Homo sapiens: one gene and its partners. The protein of the gene in region 1 purifies or fractionates together with the protein of each later gene. This does not show direct contact. Each region holds a gene or a part of one and is shown in the gene's direction. Other genes may lie near its edges. The genes, in order: WDR62, SH3RF1, BCL7B, ASPM, DCAF4, IARS2 and CCDC88A.

Evidence for each region.
Region 2: the proteins of WDR62 (region 1) and SH3RF1 purify together in Homo sapiens (affinity purification with western blotting; one study listed by BioGRID). This does not show direct contact.
Region 3: the proteins of WDR62 (region 1) and BCL7B purify together in Homo sapiens (affinity purification with mass spectrometry; one large-scale study listed by BioGRID and IntAct). This does not show direct contact.
Region 4: the proteins of WDR62 (region 1) and ASPM purify together in Homo sapiens (pull-down; one study listed by IntAct). This does not show direct contact.
Region 5: the proteins of WDR62 (region 1) and DCAF4 purify together in Homo sapiens (co-immunoprecipitation; one large-scale study listed by IntAct). This does not show direct contact.
Region 6: the proteins of WDR62 (region 1) and IARS2 purify together in Homo sapiens (affinity purification with mass spectrometry; one large-scale study listed by BioGRID and IntAct). This does not show direct contact.
Region 7: the proteins of WDR62 (region 1) and CCDC88A purify together in Homo sapiens (affinity purification with mass spectrometry; one large-scale study listed by BioGRID and IntAct). This does not show direct contact.

What each region holds. Positions count from the first base shown.
Region 1 is NC_000019.10:36,057,555-36,061,998, forward strand, and holds part of WDR62 (WD repeat-containing protein 62), read left to right. Parts: intron 1-1,225; coding exon 1,226-1,317; intron 1,318-2,413; coding exon 2,414-2,476; intron 2,477-4,444. UniProt on the Homo sapiens protein: Required for cerebral cortical development. Plays a role in neuronal proliferation and migration.
Region 2 is NC_000004.12:169,260,574-169,265,017, reverse strand, and holds part of SH3RF1 (E3 ubiquitin-protein ligase SH3RF1), read left to right. Parts: intron 1-4,444. UniProt on the Homo sapiens protein: Has E3 ubiquitin-protein ligase activity. In the absence of an external substrate, it can catalyze self-ubiquitination. Stimulates ubiquitination of potassium channel KCNJ1, enhancing it's dynamin-dependent and clathrin-independent endocytosis.
Region 3 is NC_000007.14:73,550,723-73,555,166, reverse strand, and holds part of BCL7B (B-cell CLL/lymphoma 7 protein family member B), read left to right. Parts: intron 1-1,497; coding exon of another isoform or gene 1,498-1,619; intron 1,620-2,924; coding exon 2,925-3,000; intron 3,001-4,444. UniProt on the Homo sapiens protein: Positive regulator of apoptosis. Plays a role in the Wnt signaling pathway, negatively regulating the expression of Wnt signaling components CTNNB1 and HMGA1.
Region 4 is NC_000001.11:197,104,648-197,109,091, reverse strand, and holds part of ASPM (abnormal spindle-like microcephaly-associated protein), read left to right. Parts: intron 1-3,906; coding exon 3,907-4,444. UniProt on the Homo sapiens protein: Involved in mitotic spindle regulation and coordination of mitotic processes.
Region 5 is NC_000014.9:72,936,207-72,940,650, forward strand, and holds part of DCAF4 (DDB1- and CUL4-associated factor 4), read left to right. Parts: intron 1-1,743; exon of another isoform or gene 1,744-1,764; coding exon of another isoform or gene 1,765-1,772; coding exon 1,773-1,864; intron 1,865-3,595; coding exon 3,596-3,696; intron 3,697-4,013; coding exon 4,014-4,171; intron 4,172-4,444. UniProt on the Homo sapiens protein: May function as a substrate receptor for CUL4-DDB1 E3 ubiquitin-protein ligase complex.
Region 6 is NC_000001.11:220,099,984-220,104,427, forward strand, and holds part of IARS2 (isoleucine--tRNA ligase, mitochondrial precursor), read left to right. Parts: intron 1-506; coding exon 507-666; intron 667-2,145; coding exon 2,146-2,294; intron 2,295-2,379; coding exon 2,380-2,429; intron 2,430-2,511; coding exon 2,512-2,621; intron 2,622-2,703; coding exon 2,704-2,794; intron 2,795-3,463; coding exon 3,464-3,579; intron 3,580-4,444.
Region 7 is NC_000002.12:55,409,198-55,413,641, reverse strand, and holds part of CCDC88A (girdin), read left to right. Parts: intron 1-4,444. UniProt on the Homo sapiens protein: Bifunctional modulator of guanine nucleotide-binding proteins (G proteins). Acts as a non-receptor guanine nucleotide exchange factor which binds to and activates guanine nucleotide-binding protein G(i) alpha subunits.

The sequences.
Region 1 (4,444 bases):
CCCAGGATGGAGTGCAATGGTGCCATCTCAGCTCACTGCAACCTCCGCCTCCTGGGTTCAAGCGATTTTACTGCCTCAGCCTCCTGAGTGCCTGGGATTATAGGCATGGGCCACCACACCTGACTAATTTTTTTGTATTTTTAGTAGAGACAGGGTTTCGCCATCTTGGCCAGGATGGTCTCAAACTCTTGACTGAGCCACCACACCCAGCCTTGTTTAAATTTTAAATATTACTGTTCATGTGGTTTTTTACTCGTTGAAACCGCTCAAATTTCTGGACTGTGAATCTGATGTGGGGAAACTGTCTACCTTTGGTCACTACTGTGTCTCTCCTGTACAGCCCAAAGTGCTAGCTTTGGAGCCAGACTGCCTGGGTTTGTATATCAACATTGCCACTTGCAGATGTAGGATCTTGGGCCTCAGACTTCTTACCTGTAAAACAGGGGTGATAATAGAGCCTTCTTCGTGGCTTGTTGGGAGGATTCAAGTCTTTTATACATATAAAAGTACTAAGAGGCCGGGCACAGTGGCTCATGCCTGTAATCCTAGCACTTTGGGAGGCCGAGGCGGGTGTATCACCTGAGGTCAGGAGTTCGAGGCCAGCCTGGCCAACATGGTGAAACCCCATCTCTACTAAAAATACAAAAATTAGCCGGACATGGTGGCATGTGCCTGTAATCCTAGCTACTCAGGAGGCTGAGGCAGGAGAATTGCTTGAACCTGGAAGGCGGAGGTTGCAATGAGCCAAGATCTCACCACTGACTCCAGCCTGGGTGACAGAGCAAGACTCCATCTCAAAAACAAACAAAAAAAAGTACTTAGAAACTTATTCACAGGTCACCTTCTCACCGCGGCATTCGCCCCCTTCCCCTGTGCTCCTAACCTCCTTATCTGCTTTCTTCTCTCTTGCACCCATCATTACTTGGCATCTATTTCACATATTTGTTCTGCTCCTTTTCTATGTTCTACATACCCATCACCAGTAGAATGTGAGCCCCCCGAGGGCAGGGATTTGTCTCTTCCTCACCACTCTGTGCTTTTCACCTAGCGTTGTATTTGTCAAAGGAATGTTGAGAGAACAAGTGTTAGCTGCTGGTGGATGGCGTGGCCACAGAAGCTCAGTGTGGGTGTTGAATGTAGCAGGACCTGAATGGGTGGCCAAGGCGGCTGCACCATGTGGTGCTGGCTAGGGTGGGTGCCTCTGACTTGGGCTTTTTCTTTGCAGGTGTCACTCGAGAAGGTGCTTGGCATCACAGCCCAGAACAGCAGTGGCCTAACCTGTGACCCCGGCACAGGCCATGTGGCCTACCTGGCAGGGTAAGCAGATAAGGGCCTCGACGTCTAATCATTGCTAGGGAATTTGGAGCTTGGAACCTGAAGCCATCCGTAAATCGCTCTGAGCCTCATATTTTTCACCTGTAGAATGTGGAGAATGGGGCCTGCCTCTGAGAGCTGTGGAGAGGATTCCATAGCCCCCTCTCTGTCTAGAACAGTTCCTGGCATGTAGTGAGTGCAATGAAAGCCTTTATTATGACTACAGGGGGGAGGTGACAGCGATTCTGGGAAAGACAGGTGATTAAAGTCCACGCTGTGGTGTCAGGTAACCTGGATTTGTGTCCCAGCTCTGCCATGTATGCTGCTCTCTGAGCCTCTTCCTCTGCCTCTGTAAAACAGAGCTGGTGACCCCCTCTGCTTGCATAGTTGAGAAGACTGAAGAAGATGCTACAGCTGTTCATTCCATAAATACTCATGTAGCCTGGCACTGTGCTAAGGACGTCCCCTCTCTGGGTTTGTTTCCTTATCTATAAATGGGCCTAAATAGTCGTGACCTGACCTGGCAGTTGTGAGGATTTAAAACAATTACATCCCTCTTTCTCTCTTTTTGTTTTGTTTTGCTTTTTTGAGACAGAGTCTGGCTGTGTTGCCCAGGCTAGAATGCAATAGTGTGAATAACAGCTCACTACAGCCCCAACCTCCTGTGCTCAAGCGATCCTCCCATCTTCACCTCCCATGTAGCTGGGACTACAGGCACATGCCACCACAGCCAGCTAATTTTTTTTAGTGGAGATGAGATCTCACTCTGTCGCCCAGGCTGGTCTAAAACTCCTGAGCTCAAGTGATCCCTCCTGCCCCATACTCCCAAAGTGCTGGGATTATAGCCAGCTTAAGGTCTTAATTAGCCTAGGGCCTGACAGACATTACCTCAGAGGAAGTGTTGGTTTCTATTTAAGAACATAGCAATGTTAAAGTGCCCTAGAATTCTCAGCGTAAACACCTGGAGGAGGGGGAGGAGGAGGAGACCAGAGAGAACCGAGGGAGCTTGTTTATTTGTGGGCTTTTCTGGTGGGAATAGAATCATCCCAGGACCCCAACACTCCCCACAGTTGAGGCACATTTTCCTCTTTCTTCCCAGCTGTGTGGTGGTGATTTTGGACCCCAAGGAGAACAAGCAGCAGCACATCTTTAACACCGCCAGGTAGGCTGAGGCCTGGGCCCGGGGCAGGGGTGGAACCAGGGGCTTGGCACGCCTCCCCTCCCCTACACAGCCTGGAGATACTCATGGGTAGGTGCTCACTCATTCACTTACATGTTGGCTCAGCAGCATTCGCCTGTGCTGGGTGCTGTTCCGTGTGCTGGGGACACAGCAGTGACCAGAGGAGACGAGAATCTCTGCTGGCTAGAGCGAGACAGACTGTAAACTAGTCAGCAAATTACGGGCTGATCATGATCAGTGCTATGGAGGAAATGATGGAGGATGTCTTCGGGCAGGTTTGTGGGCAGAGAATAGGAGGAAAGCCTTATCAGAAGGCTCAGGGAACGCTGCCTTGACTCTGAGACCTGAAGGAAGCGAGAGGGTGACCCATAAGAAGCTGTAGGGAGAGCGCTTCAGGCAGGGGGCACAGGAAGGGCAAAGGCCCTGCAGTGGTTAAGAATCTCCGGCGCTTTAGAAGCAGCCAGGGATCTGGGTGCCTGGAGAAAGGAGCAGGGAAGATGAGGCTGGACCAGGCAGAAGCCACATCCCGTAGGCCTTGCAGCCTTGTAGAGGGTCTGCATAGCATGCTGAGTGCAGAGAGCAGCCACAGGAGGGCACCACAGGCCAGGAATGTGCTTTTCACCCCCAGCCCTCCAGCAGCTCTATTCCCTGCTTTGCTTTTCTCCACAAAATTTGCTCCCATCTCTGATATGCTGTCCAGTTTCCTCATTGATGGTATTCACTGTGGGTCTCCCTCAGTGTGAGCACTCTTGAGAGCAGGGACTTTCTCTGAGTTCATTTCTGTGTCCCTAGCACCAAAGAGCAGTATCTGGCATATTGATGGCTATTTTCTAAGAGAAAGACTTAACATGATTTGGGTTTTAGAAAGATCCCTTCAGCTATAAGTTTACTGGGGAAGGACCCGCTCCTCTGCCTTGGGGCTAACTGATCACTGCTACCCTGGGGATGTGGTCCCAATAGGGCTGTGACCTTTGGAAGGCACACCATGTCCCTCCTTGGCATAGCTCAGGCTCAGCTCCTTTGGCCCAGTTCTCCAGGTGGATGGATAAGGAGTGGGTTTTCTCCTGCCCTTATGGTCCCTAAGGTACGGTCCTTAAGCTACGGCAGGTTCTTGTTATCTGACAGAAGTGCATTCCCTCTTGAAAGTGGCTTTTTGGACCTTTTGCTCCTAACTGTGGGTTCTGTTACTGGTGATAAGGGCAGAGCTGGGTTCCATTCCTGGCTCAAGCGTCTATTCACTGTGGAATCTCAGGTGAGACACTTCTTTCAGAGCCTTGGTCTCCTCTGAAAATAAAATAGCTGCCTCCAACTGGGAGAGCATTCATAAGGCAGCAGCTACAAACCAGAGTCACACACACTTGCCCAATATAGTATGTTTTAAAGGTTGGATAAGTGGACAACATTTCAAGTTTTTTAACACAAAAATCCAAATGTCCCTTTTGTTTGGAGAAGTGAGAAATTCTCTGGCCTCTGGGGCCCAAATTCCCCTGTGGCAGTGAGGGGCTGAGCTTAGTGAAATTTGTCAGGCCCGTTGTGGCCAGTTCCTCACACCTGTGTTGCCTCCCTAATCCCTGTAGGCAGTGGAGTGGGTGGCCTGGATCTATAGTAGATGGTATGCAGGTGTCCGCCCTTGGCCACCAGTGGGTGTGCATTAGGAGGTGGTGTGGCCAGTGTGGGGATTTTCACTCCAACTGCATATCAGAATCACCTGGTCCCTGTGCCTCACCGCCCCCCCACCGCCACGCAAGAGAAAGCCAAATCAGTTGATCTGGGATGAAACTTGGGCATTGGCAATTTTGAGACTTTTTATATTGAAATAATTTCAGACTTAGAATAGTACAAAGAGCTCCTATATACCTATGTACCTTTCACATATTTCACAAATGTTAGCTTTTTTTTCTTTTTTTTTTTTGGACACAGAGTCTTGCTCTGTCACCCAGGCTGCTGGAG
Region 2 (4,444 bases), on another chromosome or scaffold:
GATCTTCAAAAGCTTCCTGAGGAAGAGGCATCTGAGCTGAGATCTTAAGGGTGAAATGATATTAATTAGGGAATGGGGGCTGGGCAGGGAAGGGGCAGAGGCGAAGAATATTTCAAAGGGGCTGACCTAAACAGGAAGGGATGTGCCTCCTAGGAAGAACTGACAGAAGGTAAGTGTGAACTAGGCAAGCCACAGGGATGGTGTAAGATGAGGCCTCAAATTTGATAATGTAGAAGGCATCAAGAACTGCCCCAAGGGCCACGTAGGGTGAAGGGTCAGATGGGTAGGATAGATAGGAAGTGCTCTGCATTTGGGATAAGAAAGAGGGACCATTGGGACTGAGACGATTAGCAGGGCTTCAGAACAGATACGGGATTGGAGCTTGTGTCAAAGAATGGAGAGATCGGGAAAGAAAGGTAGGGAATTCTAGATATGAGGGAACACACATGAAATTTATTTTCCCCTGTAAATGCTGTGTCTGCTTTCATTTCTCCATAGCACAGTCATACCTCCTTTCTCCCTCTTTCCCTGTTGCTGACTGTTAGGGGCTGAATTATGTCCCCCAACATTGCTACGTTGAAGTTCTAACTCCTAGTACCTCACAATGTGGCCATATTTGGGGATAGGACCTTTAAAGAGGGGGTTAAGGTAAAATGAGGTCACATGCATGGGCCCTAATCCAGTAAGACCAGTGTTCTTATAAGAAGAGGAGATGAGGATGCAGACACATAGGGAAGACCATGTGAAGACACATGGAGAAGATGCCACTTACCAACCAAGGAGAGTTGCCTTCAAAGGAAGCCAACCCCACTGACACCTTGATCTTGGACTTCCAGCCTCCAGAACTGTGAGGAAATACATTTTTGTTGTTTAAGCCACCCAGTCTGTGCCCTTGGATGTAGTAGCCCTAGCCAACTTGTACTCTGACTGTAGACATACTCCTAAAGGTCAGCCCCTTGAGTGGCCTCTCGGTCCACTGCCAATCCCTTCAGTCCTGGTTTCCCCAGAAACTGGCAGTGGTCCAGCCTTCTGTGTTCTGTCATGGAATACCTTTGAGAAGTTGTTCAGCCCCTCCCTACTCCCTCAACTACCCACATTGCCTGGCATAATTTCTTAAAATAGACAGGCATGTTATAAGGAAGTTGAAGTTTATGTGACAGTATACCAGATGCACAGAAAGTTCTGGAGGAAATGAAGGAAATATTGAGAGGGGAAAACTACTACTTTCTTATCTCTGACAAATTGGATTGATCTGTAGCTGGAGTCTGGAGAGAGTGCTTTCCAGGACTCAGTAGTACCTAAGGCATTACTCAAGGGATAGGTAATGATGGACAAACCAGATACAGATCCTTACTTGGTGCTTTCCAGGGCTAAGTAGCACCCTAGTAAGGCATTCTAGGCTTTATTCCAAGGAATGGCATTGGCAGAAAGAATTGAAGGAAGTAGTGGGAGAAAGTTAGGACAACTGAGTTGCTCCAGGTTTGGTGTGGAAAGCAACTGCCAGCTGTGAACTGTGCCGTGGGACATCTTTGACATCCATCTATGAACAAGCACCTGTAGAGAGCTTTCAGGTCCAGTTATGTTCAATAATCTATACTAGGTCAAAGATGACATTAATGCATGTTTCTGTTGAAAAAGTTTACATTTGGGGGAGGTAACACACAAGAAACAACAAGTAAGGCAGCAGATAGTGAAGCATCAGGGGGTGGGATAAGATATAGAATAAGTCTCTATCTATGATGGGGTTCTTTTTTGTAGTTCGTGGTCCTTGGATTAAGTGCATGGTCAAAGAATACCAAGTGTGGACCAGAGTGGTTGGGACATGCTCCCCTGGCGTGTAAGGTTCACTACAAACACTGACGGACAAAGGAGTTGTTGTCTTCGCACAGATGGGGATGGGGATGTGTATTAACTCATACCGGACCCAAGCAAGACATTTAATGTGGTGGTTTGGATGAGGGAAATGTTTCTGTGTGTTTCAGAATGATTGAATTAAAACGGAAAAGGTGGGTTTTGTTTGTTTGTTTGTTTTGGCTAAACCATGTTTGTTGCATGCTTGACCTCTTATTTTATCCATCCTTGATCCTTACTCCAGGCTTCATGTCTGCCCCATCCCTGACCTTTACTTCATTCCTGAGCTAGGCTTGATGGTGAGACTCGGAGATGAGATCTTGAACAGGGTAGAAGGAAGGTATGGGAAAGGGGGTCTGTGGTGCATACTAATTGATAATTTTTTTAAAAAAGTAATGATTCTTTTTTATATCACATAAAGTGTCATGTAACCATAATCATGTAAACCTCACAACAGCTTTCTGGGGTCAAGTGTTATCATTTTATTTATTTATTTTTTTGAGACAGAGTCTCACTCTGTCACCCAGGCTGGAGGGCGATGGTGAGATCTCAGCTCACTGCAACCTCAGCCTCCTGGGTTCAAGCGATTCTCCCACCTCAGCCTCCCAAGTAGCTGGGATTACAGGCGCCTACCGCCATGCCTGGCTAATTTTTGTACTTTTAGTAGAGGTGGGTTTTCACCATGTTGGCCAGGCTGGTCTCCAACTCCTGACCTCAAGTGATCCACCCACCTTAGCCTCCCAAAGTGCTGGGATTACAGGCGTGAGCTGCGGCACCCAGCCTAAGTGTTATCATTTTTAAAATGAGAAAGAATGTAGATTTCAAAATGTATGTAAAAGCATTCTGGTTGTAAAAAAAAATTCAACCATATAGAAGAATATGTTATTAAGTGTGTATATACTTGCAGATCTTTTCATATACATTTATATGTGTATGCATATAGTTTCTTGATTTTTTGCAGAACTAGAATTTCATGCTCTGGAGATTCAATGATTTGCTAATTCATTTACTATATCTATGAAATCTCTTCATGTTTAAGCACATAGACCTACTCCAGTTTTTGAAAAAACTCTTTATTGATGTATAATATACACATAGAAAAGTGTACTAATTATGTGTACCATTCATTTAATTTTTCATAGTATTTTTCTCATAGTATTTTTACTCATAGAATTTTTCTTCATAGTATTTTTCTCATAGCATTTTTCTTTCTGTTTAAAAAATACTCAGTGTAAGAAAAATACTCATAGTATTTTTCTTTGTTTTAAGAATTAAAAATAATACATGCTTATGGTAAGAAATGTAATAGTAGAAGATGATGTAAAGGAGAAAATCAAGGCTTCCAATATCTCTACTCCTTTGTTCCTAATCTCTAGGGGTAACCACTGTCACAAGGTTTTTTTGTGTTTTCTTTCAGACAAAAAATTGAATAGAAATGGAATCACATTGTATATGCAGTTCTGCAACTTGTGGTTTTTAATTTAATGATAAAACTTGGATAGCTTCCGTATCTACTCACATTGATCTATAAGAAGCTATTATGCATTCTTTTTTTTTTTTTTGAGATGGTCTCACTTCTGCCCAGGTTGGAGTGCAGTTGGAGTGTTTACGGCTCACTATACATTATTATTCTTATTTCATGGATGTAGGAGGGGTGGCTGAAAGACTTTAAATAACTTGTCCAATTTCTGATCCCAAATGCTTCCTTCCCTTACCTGCAGTTGACTTAAGTGACAAACATTTTCCCTGGGACCTCATGTTGCTTTTAGCAGGGGAATCTTTTCTCAGTTGCAGCTGGCAGAGGTTATTCTTTCCTCACTGTCCTTGCTTCCTATTTTGTTTTGACAAAAAGAGGACAAATAAAGCTCCTTTACAATGACAGTGGACCAGGAAAGCAGACTCTCCTTAGCTTGATGTATGGGGAAGAGTGTGGTTTGGAGGTCAGAAGTTGTGGCCTCTGGTTCCAACACTGCCATGGGCTGGCTGTGGGGTTTCTCTGGGCTTCATTTCTTCAGCTCAAAGATGCGGAGCCATAGGGACCTAAGCTCCATGCAGAGTGGTTGTGGGAATGGGGCTGGTGAGGGGGCTGAGTTTGGTCCATCTTTGACTTTTCAGAGCCCTTTGTAGTGTCTGGCACAGAGTACACACTCACAAGAGGTTTGTTGAATAAATGAGTGAATAAGTGAGTGGAGTACCAACCTCTCTAGGGATCCTTAGCTGTATATTTAATTTCATTTCTATTTGGGATGATGAGAACCAAAGTTACTGAAAAGATACCGAAAAGATTATAAAGTGGATGTAGTGTTTGGCTGTAGAGCTACATAAAATACAGACATGAACTCAGTTATGTTGGTTTCCTGTGTGTGAAAAGTAGCCTGATGCAGATCTCTTTGGCAACCCTGATCCCCCACCCGTCCCAGTTTCCTTCATTTATTATCACTATTGCTCCAGTCCTTATTTATTTATTTATATTTCTCTTTTGCGTGACTGAAGGAGAGAAATTATTCTGTTACTGCTGGCTGGGCAGGGAAAAGGAAAATCCGAGGGAAAGGGAGGAAAGAGATAAAATCTAGTTTTGCTTTAGCTGGAGGTC
Region 3 (4,444 bases), on another chromosome or scaffold:
CCCAAAGTGCTGGAATTACAGATGTGAGCCACTGTGCCTGGCCTCCTGTATTTGACTAATTAACCTACAAAAATGGCAATTTGATATGGTTGAACCTGATGATTAAGTGACTAATCTTGAATTGAGCTATTCATGTCTGTTTCCAGATATAAGACAGGGTCTGTGAGGGCAGGGACTGTGGATCTTGTTCCCTGCATCACCAGGGCCTAGCACAGCCTGTTGTATACTAATTGGTTGAATAAATGAGAAAATGGAGTGGTCTGTTCAGGAATTAATTTTAGTTATTTTCTAAGACTTTAATTCGCTCCTTCTGTTACATCACAGTCTCTTTACACTCCCAGTATGTCATCTGTTTTTTTTTTTTTTTTTTGAGACCCAGTCTTGCCTGTCACCCAGGCTGGAGTGCAGTGGCGTGGTCTTGGCTCACTGCAGTGTCCGCCTCTGGGGTTCAAGCAGTTCTTCCGCCTCAGCCTCCTGAGTAGTCGGGACTACAGGTGTGCGCCACCATGCCCGGCTAATTTTTGTATTTTTAGTGAGGACAGGATTTCACCATATTGCCCAGGCTGGTCTCGAACTCCTGGGCTCAAGTGATCCACCCACCTCAGCCTTCTAAAGTGCTGGGGTTGCAGGTGTGAGCCACCGTGCCCGGCCCTATTATGTCATCATTTGCTGAACAGCATCAACAACTACAACAGCAGTTGCTTTTTTTTTGCTTTTTCGTGACTTCATATTTGGACTTGACTCTTTGAGAAGTTGGCTCAGATCTGTGACAAAGCAGTTCCCTGCATTTGACCCTTGTTCCTACTGACAGCAAGTACCTCTTAAGGTATTGGTGGACCTTAAAATAAGCAAATTTGTTCTCTGCCTGCACGCTTAGGGAATAACCTTCTTGGAATGAAGGAGAGGCTGGGCACGGTGGCTCACACCTGTAATCCCAGCACTTCGAGAGGCTGAGGCAAGAGGATCGCTTGAGCCCAGGAGTTCAAGATCAACCTGGGCAACATGGTGAAACCCTATCCTTACTAAAAATACAAAAAATTAACTGGGCGTGGTGGCCTGTAGTCCCAGCTACTTGGGAGGCTGAGATGGGAGATTCACCTGAGCCTGGGATTTTGAGGCCGCAAGGAGTGGTGATCACGCCACTGCACTCCAGCCTGGGTGACGGAGACCCTATCTCAAAAAAAAAAAAAAAAAAAGTCTCCTTTGTTCTATCTCCTCCACACATTTGTTTGCAGACCTCGAAGGCACTCTGTGGGTAAGCTCAGAACAGTGGCATTCTAATCTGGTGTAGATAGTTGGGGGTCCTTAGTCATTTAGAGAGTGACCTTGTGCAAGGCTTATCCCTTTGCTTATTTCGTGAGCGTAGTGGACTGATAAACTCTGCCATTTTTACCCCTTTGGAACACAGCAAGAGACAGGATTTCTACAAAGCTTTGAACTTCAAAGTTGAAATTTAAAAATTTCTTTAGACTAGTTTTCTTTCTTTTTTTTTTTGAGACGGAATCTCGCTCTGTCACCCAGGCTGGAGTGCATTGGCGCAATCTCGGCTCACTGCAACCTCTGCCTCTCAGGTTCAAGCAATTCTCCTGCCTCAGCCTCCTGAGTAGCTGGGACTACAGGTGCGTGCCACCACACCCAGCTAATTTTTTGTATTTTTAGTAGAGACAGGGTTTCACCGTATTAGCTAGGATGGTCTCGATCTCTTGACCTCGTGATCCGCCCACTTTGGCCTCCCAAAGTGCTGGGATTACAGGTGTGAGCCAGCGCGCCTGGCCTAGTTTTCTTTTTCTTTATGCAGTCTTAGTAACCCAGAAAGGGAAAGGTTCCTAACATTTCACACCCACCAGGCCATACCCCCCAGCAGCAGGTGTCTCTCCTGAGATTGTTTGCCCCTTGGAAGGGTCTTTAAATGGACACAGGAGGCCAGGTGTGGTGGCTCATGCCTGTAATCCCAGCATTTTGGGAGGCCAAGGTGGGCAGACTGCTTGAGACCAAGAGTTCAAGACCAGCGCGGGCAACAAAGAGAGACCCCCCACCCCCACCCCACCACCCCAACCATCTCTACAAAAAATAAAAATTTGGCTGGGCGTGGTGGTGTGCGCCTCTAGTCCCAGCTACTCAGGAGGCTGAGGTGGAAGGATTGCTTGAGCCCAGGAGGTCAAGGCTGCAGTGAGTTATGATTGTGCCACTTCACTCCAGCCTGGGAGGCAGAACGAGACCCTGTCTCACTAAAACAAACAAAGAAAAGGAATGTAGTAATAGAACTCATATATTTGGTAAAGAGAAAAGCACTCAAAGTAACTCGCATGCAAGTAAAAAAGAATATGGTGCTGTGTGTGCTACCTTCCAGCCTTATGTCCCACATCCTTTTTTTTTTCTTTCTTTCTTTTGAGACAGGGTCTCTGTTGCCCAGGCTGGAGTGTGGTGGCGTGATCTCAGTTTACTGCAACCTCTGCCACCTGGGCTCAAGGGATCCTCCCACCTTAGCCTCCGGAGTAGCTGGGATTACAGGCACACGCCACCACGCCCAGCTACTTTTTGTTTTTTTTTTGTAGCGACAGAGTTTCACCATGTTGGCCGGGATGGTCTCGAACTCCTGACCTCAAGCGATCTGCCCACCTCAGTCTCCCAAAGTGTTGGGTTTACAGGCGTGAGCCGCTGCGCCTGGCCTGTATTTTTTTTTTAGAGATGAGGTCTCGCTAAATTGCCCAGGCTGTTCTCAACCTCCTAGGCTTGAGTGATCCTCCTGCCTCAGCCTCTCAAAGTGCTGGGATTTCAGGTGTGAGCTACCATACCCCACCAAGAGGAAGTTCAGAAGGATTCCAGATTGAAGGAATGATCTGCTGAGTAGTAGAAAAACACAAGTGATGAACAGAAAACACATTGCATTGTTTTATCCGTTCTAAGAAGTGTCTTTCTTTTAGGGAGAAGAAGTGGGTGACTGTGGGTGACACGTCCCTGAGGATATTTAAGTGGGTTCCTGTGACAGACAGCAAGGAGGTAAGTGTGGAAGAAAATCAAAAGATACCATTTTCTTTATTTCTTTATTTGATTGCCTCTTTTTTTTTTTTTTTGGGACGGAGTCTCGCTGTGTCACCCAGGCTGGAGTGCAGTGGCATGATCTTGGCTCACTGCAACCTCCACCTCCTGGGTTCAAGCAGTTCTCTGCCTCAGCCTCCCAAGTAGCTGGGGTTACAGGCATCTGCCACCACACCCAGCTGATTTTTGTATTTTTAGTAGAGACGGGGTTTCACCATGTTGGTCAGGCTGGTCTTGAACTCCTGACCTCGTGACCCACCTGCCTCAGCCTCCCAAAGTGCTGGGATTACAGGCGTGAGCCACTGCACCCGGCCTAATTGCCTTTTAATTAAAGGAATTTATTTGCCCAGAATTGAGTGGAAAATACTTCAAGGTACCCTGTTATTGGTCCATGCAAGGCCTCTCTTTATTATTTTCCTACTTTATTCCTTTCCCTTAACCCAAGCCTCTTTTCCAGGGCTTGACAAACTACAGCCCTGGCGTATTCCTTAGGTTTGTCAGTATAGTTCTATTAGAACATAACTGGCTGGGCGTGGTGGCTCACGCCTGTAATCCCAGCACTTTGGGAGGCCAAGGTGGGCGGATCACTTGAGGTCGGGAGTTCGAGACCAGCCTGGCCAACATAGTGCAACCCCTGTCTCTACTAAAAATACAAAAAAAGTAGCTAGGCCTGCTGGCAGGCACCTGTAATCCCAGCTACTCAGGAGGCTGAGGCAAGGAGAATCGCTTGAACCTGTAAGGCAGAGGTTGCAGTGAGCCAAGATCCCGCCACTGCACTCCAGCCTGGGCAACAGTGTGACACACCATCTCGAAAATAAGCAAACAAACAAAAAAAACCAAACACATAAGTATGCCCACTGATTTCCTTATTGTCTGTGGTGCTTTTGAATTACAGTGGCAGATTGAGTGGTTGCCATAAGGCCAAATGGCCCGTAAAACCTAAAATATTTATCATCTGACCCTTTAAGAAAAAGTTTGCTGATACTTGCTCTTATGCGATTAGTCCCCCACTGTATTGTGTGTATCATATGTATATACATCTTTCTAATTCTGGTGTAGACCTTTGTGCTTCATCTTTGTTGGATGTATTTGGATACCTGTATATTCTTTAAAAATACATAGCATTGTTTCATATGTGTATTTTTGTGTTTAAACAAAACTTAAATATGTGGGCCGGGCGTGGTGGCTCACGCCTGTAATCCCAGCACTTTGGGAGGCCGAGACGGGCGGATCACGAGGTCAGGAGATCGAGACCATCCTGGCTAACATGGTGAAACCCCGTCTCTACTAAAAGTACAAAAAATTAGCCGGGCATGGTGGTGGGCGCCTGTAGTCCCAGCTACTCGGGAGGCTGAGGCAGGAGAATGGTGTGAACCCAGGAGGCGGAGCTTGCAGTGAGCCGAGA
Region 4 (4,444 bases), on another chromosome or scaffold:
ATTCATAAAGCACATAGTGATGTTTTGATACATATACTGTATAGCGATCACATTAGGACAATTAGCATATTCATCATCTCAAACATTCTTCTCTGGACTTTTTTTTTTTTTTTTTTTTTTGGAGACAGGGTCTTGCTCTGTCGCCCAGGCTAGAGTACAGTGGTGCAAACACAGCTCACTGCAGCCTCAATCTCCTAGGCTCAAGCCATCATCCCACCTCAGCCTCCCAAGTAGCTGAGACTACAGGCATGTACCACCACACTCAACTAATTTTTGTATTTTTTGTGGAGATAGGGTCTCACTAAATTCCCCAGGCTGGTCTCGAACTCCTGGGCTCTAGTCATCCTCCTGCCTTGGCCTCCTAAAGTGCTAGGAATACAGGTGTGAGCTACTACACCTTGCCAGATTCTGTTTTTTAAATTTGTATAGGACTATTTATCTTTGATGAGTTTTGGCAGTTTCTAATTTTCGAAGAATTGGTCCATTTCATCCAAGTTGTTGAATTTACCATATGTATATACAAAGTATATCTTTAATATCCTTTTGATGCCTGGGTAGTCTGTAGTGATATTCCCTTTTTCATTCCTGATATTGATAATTTGTATCTTCTCTTTTCTTCTTTGTCAGTCTTGCTAGAGTTTTAACTCTCTTGATCTTTTCAGTGGACAACCCTTTGGCTTCATTGGTCTCTGCTCAGTCTTTATTATTTCTTGTTTTGATTAATTTTGCTTTTCTGTCTATAGTTTCTTTAAGTATAATCTTGAGTAACTGATTTGAGTCCTTCCACTTTTAATGTAACACATTAATGGTATAAATTTTCTTCTAAATACAGGTTTAGCCACATACTACAAATTTTGATATGGTATTTTTTTTTCATTCAGTTCAAATAGTTTTTAATTTCTCTTGAGGCTTTTTCTATGATTTAAAGTTTCAGAATATGTTATTTACTTTCTAAATGTTTGGAGATTTTCCTATTATTTTTCTGTTAGTGACTTTTTCTTCAATTCCATTATGACCAGAGCACATACTGTGATTTCAATTCTTTCCTATTTGATAACCTTTAGTTTATGATCCACAATATGGTCTATCATGGTCAGAGGTTGGTATATCTGCAGGCCAAATTTGGCCTACCATGTGTTTTTATAAATAGAGTTTTTTAGAATATGGTCACAACTATTTGTTTATGTATTATTTGGGAGCTGCTTTTGTACTACAATAGCATAATTGACTTGTTGCAACAGAATTGGCCCACAAAGCTGAGATATTTGCCATCTTGGCTGTCATCTCCATTCTGCTATTGTGCCATACCAGTGAATTTTTATTTTGGTTAGTGTGTTTTTCGGTTCTACTATTCTCACTTGGTTCTTACTCATATCTTTGATGTCTTTACTGAGACTTTTTATCTTTCCATTAGTTTCAACTTGTTGTAGCATTTTTACTTTATCTGCTCTAAAGTCGTTGTCAGTTAATTCCAATTCCAGTATCTTTGTCATCTCATCATTGGTGTCTATTGATTATCTTTTCTTGTGAGAGTTGAAATTTTTCTGTTATGTTGTATGTCAAATAATTTTTAATTGCATTCTGGAAATTTAATGTTATGTTATCAGACTCTATGTTTTGTTTAAATCCTATGGAGAATGTTGATATTTTAGTTTTAGCAGCTAATTCACTTGATTGGGTTCAGGCCACCTGTTCTCATCAGCCTTCCATGAGCGTAGCTTCAGTGACAGTTCCTTTTTGAAAGCCTTTACAGTGAGTGATATTTGTATCATATCAGTTTCATTATGTAACACCCAGTAGCCAGTCTGGGATCTAGATTGTGATCTGTATCTTATTCAATTCTTAAAGTCTATAGCCTACTGTGGTCTAGATTCACATTGTGCACAACTTGGTGGTGAACCTAGAAATTCATAAACAACATTATCAGATTGCTTCCCTGAGCTCCCCAGTCTCTACCATCTCCCTGGTACCCTCTAGTTCCTCAGGGCTGCCTTGTTTCATCATCTGACCAGAAAACTGAAGATTGAGTTACACTGCTCTACTGCATTCTTTCCATGACTGCGCCCATATCTCAAGCAGAGAAACTCTTTTGTATGAGGAAAAACAAAGTATGGCACAGGTTATAGTTACTGGGAGAGATGAAGAATTGGGCTGTTAATGCACTCAACCTGCTGCAGATATCTGTGGTAGAGTAGAAAGAACATTTGATTTTGGTGTAATAATGTAGATCCTAAGATCAATTATTTTTATTTGCTGTGGGACTTTGCAAAAAGTTTTGTAACATTAGTGTTCCTTTCTTTAAGTGAAGAAACAATGCCAACTTAATGTATTTTTGTGAGAATTAAGTGAGAAAATTGTATGTAATGTGTTCCTTAGTAAAAGCTATTTATTTTTAAGAATTGTATGACAATGGTGAAAAAATTGCTATTGTAATAAGCAAAACTGTTAGGAGAGGAGATGATCATATCTTCCATGTTATATATCAACATTGATTAACATTTCAGTAATGGAGTAGTAATAGTAATGTAGAAAAAGTGATTATTAAAGTATAAAACAATCTGTACACACTGATTCTTCAATTTCTTAGTTTGAGGATTTTACATAGAAATATCTGTTGGGGGTGGGTGCTCAAAAGAAAAATAATATCTGAATTTCTGAGTACTATTACTGCTTTACTTTGCCCTAATTTAAAGCAAGTTAATACTTTATGTAGAGTTTATTGTTTTCAAAATACTTTTGTACAAATAAGTTTGACTGTTGTTGGATAAATATTTTGACAACTTGTGCATCTCTTCTTGGTAAGATAAAATGTATACAATCATTTCCTGTCAGGTTGAAGAGTATGAACAAAACCTCAGGTAACATTTAGTAGAGGAAGAAGACAATAAAACTTACAGGAAAAGGGTCAGGAAAAGGGATGTGCATGTTCTCCTTAAGCTTCCTCACCCATGGATAGGTATGCTTAGGCCAGTGATAGCTGCAAGCAAACTCGATACTGCTATAGGAGAGCGAGGTACCCAGTCCCTATATTACTCTACTTATATGCGAGAAAAAGTAAGATGTAGTAGAGAACAACCTCTCCATGCCACCCCCAATCTCAGCAATGTTTGGAGTGTTTGTACAAAGGAATGGTCTTATTGCTAAAACATCTAGAACTTGACTACCATTAGCCTGGGACCATTTTAGATACCAGCAACTGGAATTAGCTTGAGAGTTTGTAGCTCTTTTTGTTGAGCCAACATACAGTTGGATTAGCCATTGTAACCATGGCTTTTCAAAAGACAAAAGTTTTGTCATTTCTCAAGTCTTTCTAGAATTCTACTTTTAAGCCATGTATTTATAGTTCCTAAATTTGGGAAAAGGAAGTAATTTTATTCTTAATGAAAATAATGACTCTGAGAGTGATCTGGTTTATTTATTCCTAAATTCCTATATTTATATTATCAGGCCTGTAATGTGATAATGCAGGATCCTTCACATAAACAGTTTCTAGTCATTATAAGGTAGCTTAGAAACATTGAAGTAAGGGGACCATATAAGGCCCAGAAATAAACTCATAGGAAATTACTTAGAATCAATAGATAGCAAAGAATATTACTATAGTTTTATTTTGACTCTTTTGCTTGTAATATAACATAAACTTGCTTATGTTTCTTATGATTCTGGCATACAAATGCAGTATTTAAATATAATGAAGATTTGGATGGATTTCTGAATTGGCTACAGGTATATCAATGTAAAACCTAAACTAAAAACAAAAGAGACAAATATCTCACAAAAATAATTAGTTTTCTAATTCAATGTGTTTATTTTTAAGCAGAATGTTAGAAAAATTAGTATTTTGAAAAGTGTTAAATATAGAAAGCTATGCCTATTTTACTTTGTGTCCTTTCTTACCTTTTCCAGGGATATTGGAGAAGATATTCCACTAGACAAAGATTTCTGAAATTGAAATATTATTCAATCATCCTGCAATCTAGGATAAGAATGATAATTGCTGTTACATCTTATAAACGATATCTTTGGGCTACAGTTACAATTCAGAGGCATTGGCGTGCTTATTTAAGAAGAAAACAAGATCAACAAAGATATGAAATGCTAAAATCATCAACTCTTATAATCCAATCTATGTTCAGAAAATGGAAGCAACGTAAAATGCAATCACAAGTAAAAGCTACAGTAATATTGCAAAGAGCTTTTAGAGAATGGCATTTAAGAAAACAAGCTAAAGAAGAAAATTCTGCTATTATCATACAATCATGGTATAGAATGCATAAAGAATTACGGAAATATATTTATATTAGATCTTGTGTTGTTATCATTCAGAAAAGATTTCGGTGCTTTCAAGCCCAAAAGTTATATAAAAGAAGAAAAGAGTCCATACTAACCATCCAGAAGTACTACAAAGCATATCTGAAAGGAAAGATTGAGCGCACCAACTATT
Region 5 (4,444 bases), on another chromosome or scaffold:
ACTGATCCATAGGGAAACCCACACATGGTGTTCAGGAGCCATTGTTTAGGACAATGAATAAGATAAAAGTTTTGGAGCCGGGCTTGGTGGCCCACGCCTGTAATCCCAGCACTTTGGGAGGACGAGGCAGGTAGATCACTTGAAGCCAGGAGTTCTTGAGCAGCCTGGCCAACATGGTGAAACCCCATCTCTACTAAAAATACAAAAATTAGCTGGGTGTGGTGGCAGGTGCCTGTAGTCCCAGCTACTCGGGAGGCTGAGGCAGGAGAATCGCTTGAACCCGAGAGGCAGAGGTTGCAGTGAGCTGAGATGGCGCCACTGCACTCCAGCCTGGGCAACAGAGCGAGACTCCATCTCAAAAAAAAAAAAAAAATACACACACATTTGGGCTGCAGGGGCAGGGATATTGCTTTCAGAGAAGAGAGGTATAGACAGGCAAAAGAGCAGATCGGGGGTTAGAGAGAAATCATGAACTCACTTTTGAACCTGTTGGGTCTGTGGAGATAGACACGAAGCAGCATAGGAACTTGGTGCTCAGTAGCGATATTAGGGTTGGAGCTGCATCTGCATTGGTAGATGAGGTGGTGTTAAGTCTGAAAAGAAAAGGATCTAGGACAGAACAATGGAAAGCACATACAGGGTGTGTGACCCAGGAGAAATGAGCAAAGGATTTATTTAGCAAGAAGAAAACCAAGAGAAAGATATTACAGAAGCCAAAGGAAGAATGTAGCCTCCTGGTGCCACATGTTGCAGGAATAAGGGCTAAAAAGAGACCACTCACTTTGGCAAGTAGGTAATCAATAGCAAGAGCATTTTAGTAGAAAGGCGAGGAGAGAGGAAGCTCAACTGCAGTGGGTTGAGGAATATCGGGAGATGAAGACATTGAATTCGTAGATGTAGACCATTCTTTCAGAATATGCCCATTTTTTTGGATTAGAAATGGAACACTTACAAATGAAAAACCTGGGCATGTTTTTAAAAGCTGAGATAAGGAGAAGGAGACATTAACATATGGGGGAACAGATAGATGTCTGCAGTTCCTGGGAAGGAATGAAATCAACAGCCAGGTGGGATGGGTCTCCCTTGAAAAGGAGCAGTGATACCTGTTGTCCAAGACAAGGAAGAAGACAATTAGTAAAGGCAGGTATTTGTGGAGCAGAAGGGAGTGAAGTTAGGGGTTTCATGCCTGGCAATTTTTCTTTTCTTTTTTTTTTTTTTTTTTTTGAGATGGTGTCTTGCTCTGTCGCCCAGGCTAGAGTGCAGTTTACAGTGAGCACAATCTCAGCTCACTGTAAACTCCACCTCCCGGGTTCAAGCGATTCTCCTGACTCAGCCTCCTGAGTAGCTGGGATTACAGGTGCACGTTACAACTCCCGGCTAATTTTTGTATTTTTAGTAGAGATGGGGTTTCACCATGTTGGTCAGGCTGGTCTCGAACTCCTGACCTCGTGATCCGCCTGCCTCGGCCTCCCAAAGTGCTGGGATTACAGGCATGAGCCACCGCGCCTGGCCGACCTGGCAACGTTTCTGTGGGGTAGGAAACTATGTGGTCGACTAAGGGTAACAGGAAGGAAGTGGGAAGGATGTTGGGGGAGTGCTGGAGGCAGCCCTTCCCAGGTAAGGCTTGCTGTGGCAAATCTGATGATAACCCAGGGTGGGCCAGCCTTTTGCTGGTGCTGAGCATGAAGCAGCTGCCAAGAAGCAAACAGAAAAGCCCATGCCCACACACAGAGATGTATGGATTTTTTTGTTTTTCTCTTTTAGGAACAGAAATGAATAAAAGTCGCTGGCAGAGTAGAAGACGACATGGGAGAAGAAGCCACCAGCAGAACCCTTGGTTCAGACTCCGTGATTCTGAAGACAGGCAAGTGTGCCGCTCTGGGGAGCCACTTTTGCCCAGTGTGCTTCTGGCATTGTACACATGGCATGTCACACGATCACAGGTGTGGAGATCACCTGGGGGCTCGTCCCAATGCAGGTTCTGATTCTGTAGGTCTGAGGGGTCTTGAGGAGAGCCTGCCTTCCTAACGTGCTCCCAGGGCATGTCGCTTTGGTGGGTCAGCCCACCTCACTGAGTAGTGAGGAGAGAGGACCACTCTCTGTTCTTTCCTAAGTGACCACGACCTCTGGCCAGAGCATTCGCCATAAAGCTAGAGGTAGACGTTATCTGAAACAACTGGAAAACCGTTTCTCCATTTTGTAGACTTTTTATGCAAATACCTTTGTGGAAACCAAATTTTATTAATTCAGCCTAAGTCTCGGACAAGGATATACACTCATGCTTCGCTTAACAAGGAGGAATGCATTCTGAGGAATATGTTGTTAGGCAGTCGTGTCATGCAAACATCATAGCACATACGTAACACAAACCTACATGGTACAGCCAGCCACACACACCTAAGCTATATGGTGTAGCCAATTGCTCCGAGGCTGCAAACCTGTACAGCATGTGACTACTGAATGCTAGAGGCAGTCAGTACACAGTGGTATTTGTGTATCTCAACATAGAAAAGATACAGTAAAAATAGGGTATATAAGATTTTTTTTTAAATGGTATACCTATGTATGACACTCCTGTGAACAGAGCTTGCGGGACTGGAAGTCAGTGAGTGAGTGATGAGTGAACACAAAGGCTTAGGACATTACTGTATGCTAGTGTAGACTTTAAAACCCTGTACACCAGGCTACATTACATTTATTTATTTATTTAAGAGATGAGGTCTCACTCTGTTGCTCAGGCTGGTCTCAAACTCCTGAGCTCAAGTGATCCTTCTGCCTCAGCCTCCCAAAGTGCTGGGATTACAGACTTGAACCACCACCCAGGCCAAGGCTACATTAAATGTATTTTTAAAATAAAGTTGGCTGGGCCGGGTGTGGTGGCTGACGCCTGTAATCCCAGCACTTTGGGAGACCAAGGCAGCCGGATCACTTGAGGTCAGGAGTTTGAGACCAGTCTGGCCAACACGGCGAAACTCCGTCTCTACTAAAAATATAAAAATTATCTGGGTGTGGTGGCACACACCTTTACTACATCCTTCAGCCTATAATTCCCTCAGAAGCTACTTGTGGATTTACAAATCAAGTGTTTTAGCCGCAGCTCTATCCCAGTGTTACTGAACTAATCACCTCTGTCCCCCAAACCCCAGTTTCTCTGTCTGTAAGATTGTGTAGTCAAGTAAAATTTAAACTCTTTGTGCTACTGAATCCAATAAAGAATGAAATTCACCTAGCCTTGTAACTGCTGTTGTGCTGACAAATGAGCCCAGCTGGTAAAATTCTTATTGGCAGAGATTTCTATTTTTCCTTTTAATCTGGAAAATTCCACAAGACCTCACAAAATGCGCGAGTGAGAAGATAAGAAGAGGGAATCACTGTGACATCTGTCCTCTTTTAAAGAAAGAAAAAAGAATGAAAAACCAAAACCTTGCCCTATTTTGTTGTATTTGCAAGAGGGGATCAGTGCTTCTCAAGTAATCAGAAAGGTCAGAGATCAGAGGTGAAGGCTGCAGAACTGCCCGAATGGACTCCCTGCCCCCGTCAGAATGGCTGGAACTCAAGTCCTGGGCTGCAAGTTAACACAGCTGTGTGTCAACAGGTCTGACTCCCGGGCAGCACAGCCCGCTCACGATTCCGGCCACGGTGATGACGAGTCTCCGTCAACCTCGTCTGGCACAGCTGGGACCTCCTCTGTGCCAGGTAAGGCCACTTGCGGGGTGGGAATCCTGGCCCTTGCACACAGGGAAGGCTGAGACCCGTTCCTGGCTTGGAAGGAATTCCAGGAGCAAATTGAAACACTCAGGGAAGGAGCTGGGTGCGTCAGGAATGGTGGTCATGAGGCAAACCGCCTCCCCCAGGACTGAGCACAGTCCAGGATGTTGCCTGACAAGGCAGCTCATCCCCGCCCTCAGAAAAGACAGGCAGCCACGAGGTGGGGGGACAGGCCACTGGGCGCCCAACTCAGGTGGTCAGTTCACAGTGGTTGAAATTGGTGCATTTAATTTTTTTGTCTAAAGAGCTACCTGGGTTTTACTTTGACCCTGAAAAGAAACGCTACTTCCGCTTGCTCCCTGGACATAACAACTGCAACCCCCTGACGAAAGAGAGCATCCGGCAGAAGGAGATGGAGAGCAAGAGACTGCGGCTGCTCCAGGAAGAAGACAGACGGAAAAAGGTGGGCTCCTCACCCCTTCGCCCCCTGTCCTCTCCGCTCCTGCCAGCACCTGTCCATCCACTGTTGAAAAGGGTGCCAATTAGATGCCCCTGCGACACTTAGCAGAGGCACTTCAGGGGGTGTGGCCCTAGCTTTTCCCTGACAGGAAGAAGACAAGAATAAGAACAGCCAAGAGCCCCCTTCTTCCATCCCCGTTTTCTTGTTCGATAAGTTGTTTTTTTTTTTTTTTTTGAGGCGGAATCTCACTCTGTTGCCCAGGCTGGAGTACAGTGG
Region 6 (4,444 bases), on another chromosome or scaffold:
ACTGTTTCCTCTTGGGAAGAAGGAAATTGAGCTTGGAGCCAAATCTATCCTTTGCCTTTGATTCCTCCATTCAACTATAGTAATATATTTTTTAAAAGGCTCTGCTGCCCTCTGGTATCTAAAATGAATTTAAAAAGGTAAATTGGTTCTAGAACTATACCTAATGAAGAGGTCTACTGTTTTAGTAAGGGTTTGTCAATGACAGAGTTAACCACAATATTCCATTCTCTGAGTACACTGTAAGTTCTGCAATGGTTTGATGATATTTCTTAGCTCAATATAAATAATATTAGACTATTTGTGTCAATAGTTTTTTTATGAGTTAATTTATACGTTTCCTTTCAAATTGCAGTTTTAAAAATGGTATTAAGTTTAAAAAAAAGAACATAAATTGTAGGCCAAATATTTTATGTATGAATGCTAATTATCATTTTATCTTTGCAGATTTTGAAATACATGGCCAAATATTTTATGTATGAATGATAATTATCATTTTATCTTTGCAGATTTTGAAAGACATAGCCAATCGATTCCATATGATGAATGGCTCCAAAATACATTTTGTGCCCGGCTGGGATTGTCATGGGTTGCCCATTGAAATAAAAGTATTATCAGAACTTGGTAGAGAAGCTCAGAATCTTTCAGCTATGGAAATTAGAAAGAAAGGTAAATAATCTGTATTTCTGTTTTAAAATGATATTTGTAAACACTCAGGTCCTTGAAATAGTCAGAACTTTACCAAAGGAACCTTTTGTTTGGGTTTCGTTTGCTTATAATAAGATCTATTGGAAACGCCTTTCTGTCACAGAAAATTCAGATTTTATTTCATTGATTTTTGTAAGAACTTATGTTTGGATATTGAAGGAAAGACTTTGTGAGCATTTCTGATTGCATTCTCAGTTTCTTAATGTTCATATTTTAAAAAACTATTTTTTGGTAAATTCTTTTTTCTGCTTTCCTCAAGGGGGCTTGTTGACTGATTTTAGGTGTTAAGCCAAAATTCAATTCTAAAATACATATATTTTACATTAATCTTTTATTTGATCCTTTTTCTTCAGTCGACTGGGCCAAGGGAGGATTCTCTTTTTCTTATATGTTATACTATTGTACATTTGGATGTAACTGTGAAGATTTTTTTACTTCCTTGTGAAACCTATTATCATTGGCTTAGATTTGATATTCTGATTAATTTTTTGTGTATAATGAAATGAAAATTGTTATCTGACCTTTTCTTAAATTAAGAAACAATAAGGAATAATTTTTCCAGTTTATTTGTCCTAAATATGAGGTCATTGTATAAAGTCTGGAAAATACAGAAGACAGTAATAAAATTTTAACTTTTGCAATTCCAGTTAATTTTAGAATTTGTTGTAGGTATCTTCTGAACACTGTTGACCTTCAAATTATTTTTCTATTAAAAAATTTTTATAGGCTGGGCACAGTGGCTCATGCCTGTAATCCTAGCACTTTGGGAGGCTGAGGGAGGTGGATCGATCACCTAAGGTCAGGAGTTTGAGACCAGCCTGGCCAACATGGCAAAACCCCGTATCTACTAAAAATACCAAATAATTAGCCAGGTATGGTGGCTCACGCCTGTAGTCCCAGATACTTGGGAGGCTGAGGCACGAGAATTGCTTGAACCTGTGTGGCAGAGGTTACAGTGAGCTGAGATCCGCCACTGCATGCCAACCTGGGCAACAGAGCAAGACTCCATCTCAAAAAAAAAAAATTTTGTGCTCGGGCGCCGTGGCTCACGCCTGTAATCCCAGCACTTTGGGAGGCTGAGGCGGGTAGATCACGAGGTCAGGAGATCCAGACCATCCTGGCTGACACAGTGAAACCCCGTCTCTACTAAAACTACAAAAAAATTAGCCGGGCGTGGTGGCGGGCGCCTGTAGTCCCAGCTACTCAGGAGGCTGAGGCAGGAGAATGGCGTGAACCCGGGAGGCAGAGGCTTGCAGTGAGCCGAGATCATGCCACTCGCGCCACTGCACTCTAGCCTGGGTGACAGCGAGACTGTGTCTCAAAAAAAATTTGCATTCTAAACTGTCTGTAGCATTTGCATTTAGAGAGATACATGCTAAACCATGTTTAAGAATTCGAATTCATTGGTTTTTTAAAATCTTTTTTTCGTCTTTTTTTTAGCTAGATCATTTGCTAAAGCAGCCATTGAGAAACAGAAATCAGCATTTATTCGTTGGGGAATAATGGCAGATTGGAATAATTGCTACTATACATTTGATGGGAAGTATGAAGCCAAACAGTTGAGAACTTTTTACCAAATGTATGATAAGGTAAAGAAGTATTTTTTCTCTTTGAGTAGGTTTTAGTATGCGTTACAAGATTCTACTTTTAACATCATATTTTTGTCTTTTATAGGGCTTGGTTTATCGATCTTACAAACCTGTGTTTTGGTCTCCGTCATCTAGGTATATATGCATTTTTCGGTAATTAAAAGGGAGAAATTTGTGAGGCTTCCAAGTATTTATGTTTAATATTTTTAACCCTTAGGACTGCATTGGCTGAAGCAGAACTTGAATATAATCCTGAGCATGTCAGTCGTTCAATATATGTAAAATTTCCTCTCTTAAAGCCTTCTCCAAAATTGGCATCTCTTATAGGTAAGATTTATTCATAGCTTGAGTGTACCAAAGTTATAGAATTATCCCATTTGCTAACATATTTACAATTGTATTTTCACAGATGGTTCATCTCCTGTTAGTATTTTGGTCTGGACCACACAACCTTGGACGATTCCAGCCAATGAAGCTGTTTGCTATATGCCTGAATCAAAGTGGGTATATTATTGCATTTTTTGTTTTATACACAAATAGAATGTATTCCATTATTAACATTATTTTGAATTTATTTTATCCTGTTTATTATTGTAAAATTTAATGAATTATAACTTAGTTATTATGTTCATATAGATTTTATTAACCTTTAGGTGATCCTTTTTATGACCTTATCCAGCTTTTCGGGAAAATGAAATAGAAGTATAAGTTACAAAGTGTTTTGAAAATAGTACAGTTTGATCTTGAAGTCAGTTTTTTCTTTTTTCTTTTTTTTTTTGGAGACCGAGTTTTGCCTTTTGTTGCCCAGGCTGGAGTACAGTGGCATGATCTTGGCTCACCACAACCTCCACCTCCCGGGTTCAAGCAATTTTCCTGCCTCAGCCTCCCGAGTAGCTGGGATTATGGGATTACAGGCATGCGCCACCACGCCAGGCTAATTTTGTATTTTTAGTAGAGATGGGGTTTCTCTATGTTGGTGAGGCTGGTTGCAAACTCCCAACCTCAGGTGATCCACCTGCCTTGGCCTCCCAAAGTGCTGGGATTATAGACATGAGCCACCGCGCTGGCCTGAAGTCAGTTTTTTCTAAAATGATTATTTAAAAATTAAAATGATATCTGTGGCTTTTCTTGTTTCATTATTAGTAATTTCTCCTAAAATTTTATGTTAGGTATGCTGTTGTGAAATGTTCTAAGTCTGGAGACCTCTACGTACTGGCGGCAGATAAAGTAGCATCTGTTGCTTCTACTTTGGAAACAACATTTGAGACTATTTCAACACTTTCAGGTGAAGATTTTTAGATATCTGACAACATAGTCATCAAAGTATTGGGCTGACTTGAATTTACTACTTTGCTGAACTGCATATTTTGAATTGAAACAGATATGGCCTCTACCTTTCTAGAATACATTTTACATTGATTACACTAAAGGAGAATATACATTAAGCATGATAGGAGTATAGAAAAATATGAATATTGATAAATGTACAACAGGTAAAACTAATTTCTGGCAATATCCAGTAGTTACTTGGTAAAATTTTATGCAAAATTAATTTTTAAAATTGTTTTTATCTGTTTTAATAAAAGTAGCAAGAAAGGAAATGCATATACTTATTTTTCGATACATAATTTTAATAAAGGATTGAATAAGTTCTGAAAATTATTCAGAAAGCAGTTCTTCTATCAAAGGAATTTTATTTTATTTTATTTTTTAAAGAGACAGGGTCTCATGCTGTTGCCCACTGCTGGAATGCAGTGGTCCAGTCAGCTCATTGCAGCCTCAAACTCCCGGGCTCAAGCAATCCTCCTGCCCTGGCCACCCAAGTAGCTGGGACTATAGGCACATGCCACTGCACCCGGCTAATTTTGAAAAAATATTTTACAGAGATGAATTCTTGTTGTGTAGCCCAGACTGGTCTGGAATTCCTGGGCTCAAGTGATCTGCCTGCCTTGGCCTGCCAAAGTGCTGGGATTAAAGGCGTAAGCCACTGTGCCTAGCCCAAAATAATTCTTTGTGAGCTATAATTTGGGACTTTTGAGGTAGTGACTGCTTTGAAATATAATTATGGAAGTCTAGGGAAGTTTAAAATTAGCTTTTTGTTGTTGTTGTTCTTCATTTTGTTTTGAGACGTGGTCTTGCTCTGTTGCCCA
Region 7 (4,444 bases), on another chromosome or scaffold:
GACTCTATCTTTTGTCTCTGTATTCTTAGGACAGTGTTTGACACACAGTACATTCTTGATATATTTCTGTTGAATGATTGAATAATACAGCCATGTGTAGTAAAGTGGAATGAATTTGAGCCTTATGTCAGATAGACATAGACTTGGGTTCAGTTCTAGCTGTGCTACTTATTGGTATGTGAGCCTAATATCTCCAAATTACAGTTCCTACATTTATAAGATGGGAGATAATGTTTCCCTTCCTGATGGGGAAGGATTATCTACTAAGGCAGGGACAGATAAGTCTATTTTCTGTTTTGTTGACCCACTATATCCCCAGTGCTGGTTGCTGTCATTATTATTATCCTGTGCTATGCTATATCTACCTACTTATGGCTCCTCAAGTAAATCATGATAGTTCACAGCTTAGTTTTTTTGTTTGTTTGTTTGTTTTTGAGACAGGATCTCACTCTGTCACCCAGGCTGGACTGCAGTGGCACAATCGCAACCCACTGCAACCTCAAACTCCTAGGCTGAAGCAATCCTCCCACCTCAGCTTCCCAAGCAGCTGGGACTGCAGGCATGTGCTACTGCACCTGGCTAATTTTTTAAAATTTTTTTTATAGAGACCGGGTCTCACTTTTTTGCCCAGGCTGGTCTTGAATTCCTGGGTTCAAGTGATCCTCCCACCTCAGCTTCCCAAAGTGGCTGGCATTACAGGCATGAGCCACTGCGCCTGGCCGACAGCTTAGTTTTGTATGATCTCTGTTAGTGTCACCTCTATATAGCTGTATGATCTTTAGTAAGTTACTTAATTTGTAAGTGGGATAAAAAGTCACAGGATTGTTATGAGAATCAAATAGAATAATGTATGTACAATGCTTAACATATAGAAAGTGTCCAATAAATGTTAGCTCTTTATTGTTTTATTTATATTATTATCATTAGAATTATTTTCTTCAAGACCAGCGGTCCCCAACCTTTTTGGCAGCAAGGACTGGTTTCATGGAAGACGATTTTTACATGGAGCAAGGCTGAGGGGAGATGGTTTCAGGATGAAACTGTTCTACCTCAGATCATCAGCCATTAGATTCTTATGAGGAGAGTGCAACCTAGATCCCTCGCATCTACAGTTCACAATAGGGTTTGTGGTCCTGTGAGAATCTAATGCTGTTGTTGATCTGACAGGAGGCAGAGCTCAGGCAGTAATGCTTGCCCGCCCACCACTGATCTGCTGTGTGGCTTTCCTAACAAGCCATGGACCCAATCCATGGCCCAGGGGTTAGAGACTCCTGCTCTAGACTATCCTTCCCCTTTTCTTTGACTAACCAATTCCTGCTCTTCCTTTAATACCTTGTGAAGTCCCCAGGCAGAGTTGTTTTCTTCCTTATGATTCGGAAGTACCTTCACCTGCGTAGCTATTGCTTTGCAGTATTACTGTTTAGGGGCTAGATGTTTTGTCTCACATATTACTAGCACCTAACCTAGTACTTAGCATGTATCACTAGCACCTAGCATAGAAGTTGGCATGTCGTAAGTTGTAAGTAAATGTTGAAGGAATAAGTGAAGATAGCTGCAATTTTATTAATTTTCAAAATTTTGAGAATACCTTCTAGTTTTAGTACTGTAGAATTTAGTTTATTTTTTAGTTTGTCTTCTGTTTCTCCTTTTTGTTTGTTCTCTCTCTTTCCCCGTATTTGTTTTAATTACCTTTATTGGATATTTTTCCCACCGATGTTATATCTCCTTTGAGGCAAGGTGATAGGAGCAAGATTTCATGGTCCATGGTTTTTTATAGTATTAGAATATACAGTGCTTTCAGTTTGGTTTCCAATAACTTTCCTGTCCAATATGTTGAGTTTTTTTTTTTTTTTTTTTTTTTTGAGACGGAGTCTTACTCTGTCGTCTAGGCTGGAGTACAGTGGCGTGATCTCGGCTCACTGCAACCTCCTTCTCCCAGGTTCAACCAATTCTCCTGTCTCAGCCTCCTGAGTAGTTGGGATTACAAGGTGCCCACCACCGTGCCTGGTGAAGTTTTGTGTTTTTAGTAGAGACGGGATTTCACCATTTTGGCCAGGCTGGTTTCGAACTCCTGACCTCAAGTGATCTGTCCACCTGAGCCTCCCAAAATCTCATGCTGGGATTACAGGCATGAGCCACCGTGCCTGGGCCATGTTGAGATTTTTTTGTCCACAGCTTTGTATTGGACTGTCTTCAAGAAAAGTCCATTGTGATTGCCTCATTCTCAATATGATTCATATGTAGTTAAACTACAGAAATGATGAGAACCTAGAGAAGAACAGGTGAACTAGTTGTTATACCTGAGAGTATTTTTAAATTTTTTAACTGAAAATTTTCTCTTAATATATATTATGGGAGACTAGTTCTCACAGGATAAATGGAAAGGAAGACCAGTTCTTTCAAAAGGACACCAGCTGACTTTCTTTTAGGATCCATGAAACAGTTTGATACCATTCTAGGCATTAAGTTTTCAATATTCAGAAATAGTATTTGAGATTATACTTGGTACTGGGACATCTGTATAATACTTAATTTATTAATTAGTAAACTGGCTGCTTTTGGAGAGTCAGAGTGGTGGGAGGGCAAAAACAAAAACATGGGCTTGAAAGTTTAAATCCTGAATCAATCATTTAATATTTAGCTAGTTATTGAAACTGGAAAATTACTTTAAATGTTCTCTTTATTCCTGATTCTATTTTTATGCCTTCTTAGATCTATTTTACTAGTTTAATAATTTTTTTTTTTTTTTGAGACAAGGCCTCTCTCTCTTGCCGAGACTGGAATGCAGTGGCGAGATCTTGGTTCACTGCAACCTCTGCCTCCTGGGCTCAAACGATCCTCTCACCTCAGCCTCCTGAGTAGCTAGGACTACTACCATGCCCAGCTAATTTTTCTTTTCTTTTTTTTGTTTTTTGTTTTTTGTAAAGGCAGAGTTTTGCTGTGTTGCCCATTCTGGTTCCAATCTCCTGGGTTCAAGCTATCCACCACCTCAGCCTCCCAAAGTGCAGAGATTAGAGGCGTGAGCCAGTGTGCCTGGCCTACTTTAATAATTAATAAAAATAGGTGGATAAAACCCATCAACTTCACTCTGAGTGAGAGGAGATCTGCCCCTAACATTTGTAAGATCCAGGATAAGCATCCATTTACCACAATAGGCCTAAATATTTAAAGCTTATAAACCAGGCCAACAAATCATTATCTATATTCTAGTCTTTTCTCTTGATAAATATACCTTCATAATGACTTGAAAGTTTCAAATTTAAAATCTGTGGAATTTAGAATTCATAAATTCACAGTTTTGCAGCAGAGTGTGGTTAAGCCCAACCTCCTCCCGTCATCTCTGGCTCTTTCTAGCACCACAAAGAGGTCTCCTGTACATGCTGTGAACACCTTGCATGCACGCACAAGGTCTAAGCTCTTGTACTCCCATCCCCAAACAAGTACTCCTTGGCCCAAGGGTGTACACAAGTGTAGCACAGTCTTTTCTAAGGACAGACCTAGGAAAGAGGCCTGTGTGGGCCTTCAAATTGAGTTAGAAGTGCTTGGGCAAGAAATTGCAAAGTTCTGGGCACCTGGAGTGTCATTTAAAAGTGGGGAGGTAGGCCAGACTTGGGGGCTCACACCTGTAATCCCAGCACTTTGGGAGGCTGAGGCGGGTGGATCACTTGAGGTCAGGAGTTCAAGATCAGCCTGGCCAATATGGTGAAACCCCGTCTCTAATAAAAATACAAAAATTAGCAGGGCATGTTGGCGGGCCCCTGTAATCCCAGCTACTCGGGAGGCTGAGGCAGGAGAATCACTTGAAGCTGGGAGGCGGAGGTTGCAGTGAGCCGAGATTGCGCCACTGCACTCCGGCTTGGGTGACAGTGAGACTCTGTCTGAAAAAAAAAAAAAAAAAAAAAAGGGAGGTATATAGGCACATCCCCCTGTTTACATGGACTCCTCTCCCAGTGGAAGCATGTGGGCCGAGGAGGGCCGGAGTTGGACTCAGGGCAGAGCTCTCTCATCAGGATCTAAATGTAATACTCAGTGAGAGGGATGAAGGGCTAGTTCATTCAAAGATCAATTAATATGGGAATAGTTTCTAAGTACTTACTGTGTAATAAACTGTTAGATGCTAGGAATAGGATGCTTTGCCCACAATAAGGGGGAGGTGCATGTAAACAAATTGCAATGTGGTATCTGTGCCATGATAAGGAATTATGTTCTTGAGACAGTGTTCGCACAGAAAGGGAAGTGATGATTTACATGGAGGAAAGGCTTCTTGGAGGAGATGATGTTTGAGCTGGACATGAGAGCTCCGTAGGAGAAATCAGAGTGAACAGGAGTCATAAGTAGTGGGAGAGTGGAAGGAAGGACATTTTAAGCAAAGAAAATAGCATGAAAAAGAGGCATGAAGATGTAAATAACGGTGGAGGAATTAGGAAGTTTGAGAAAAGTGGAA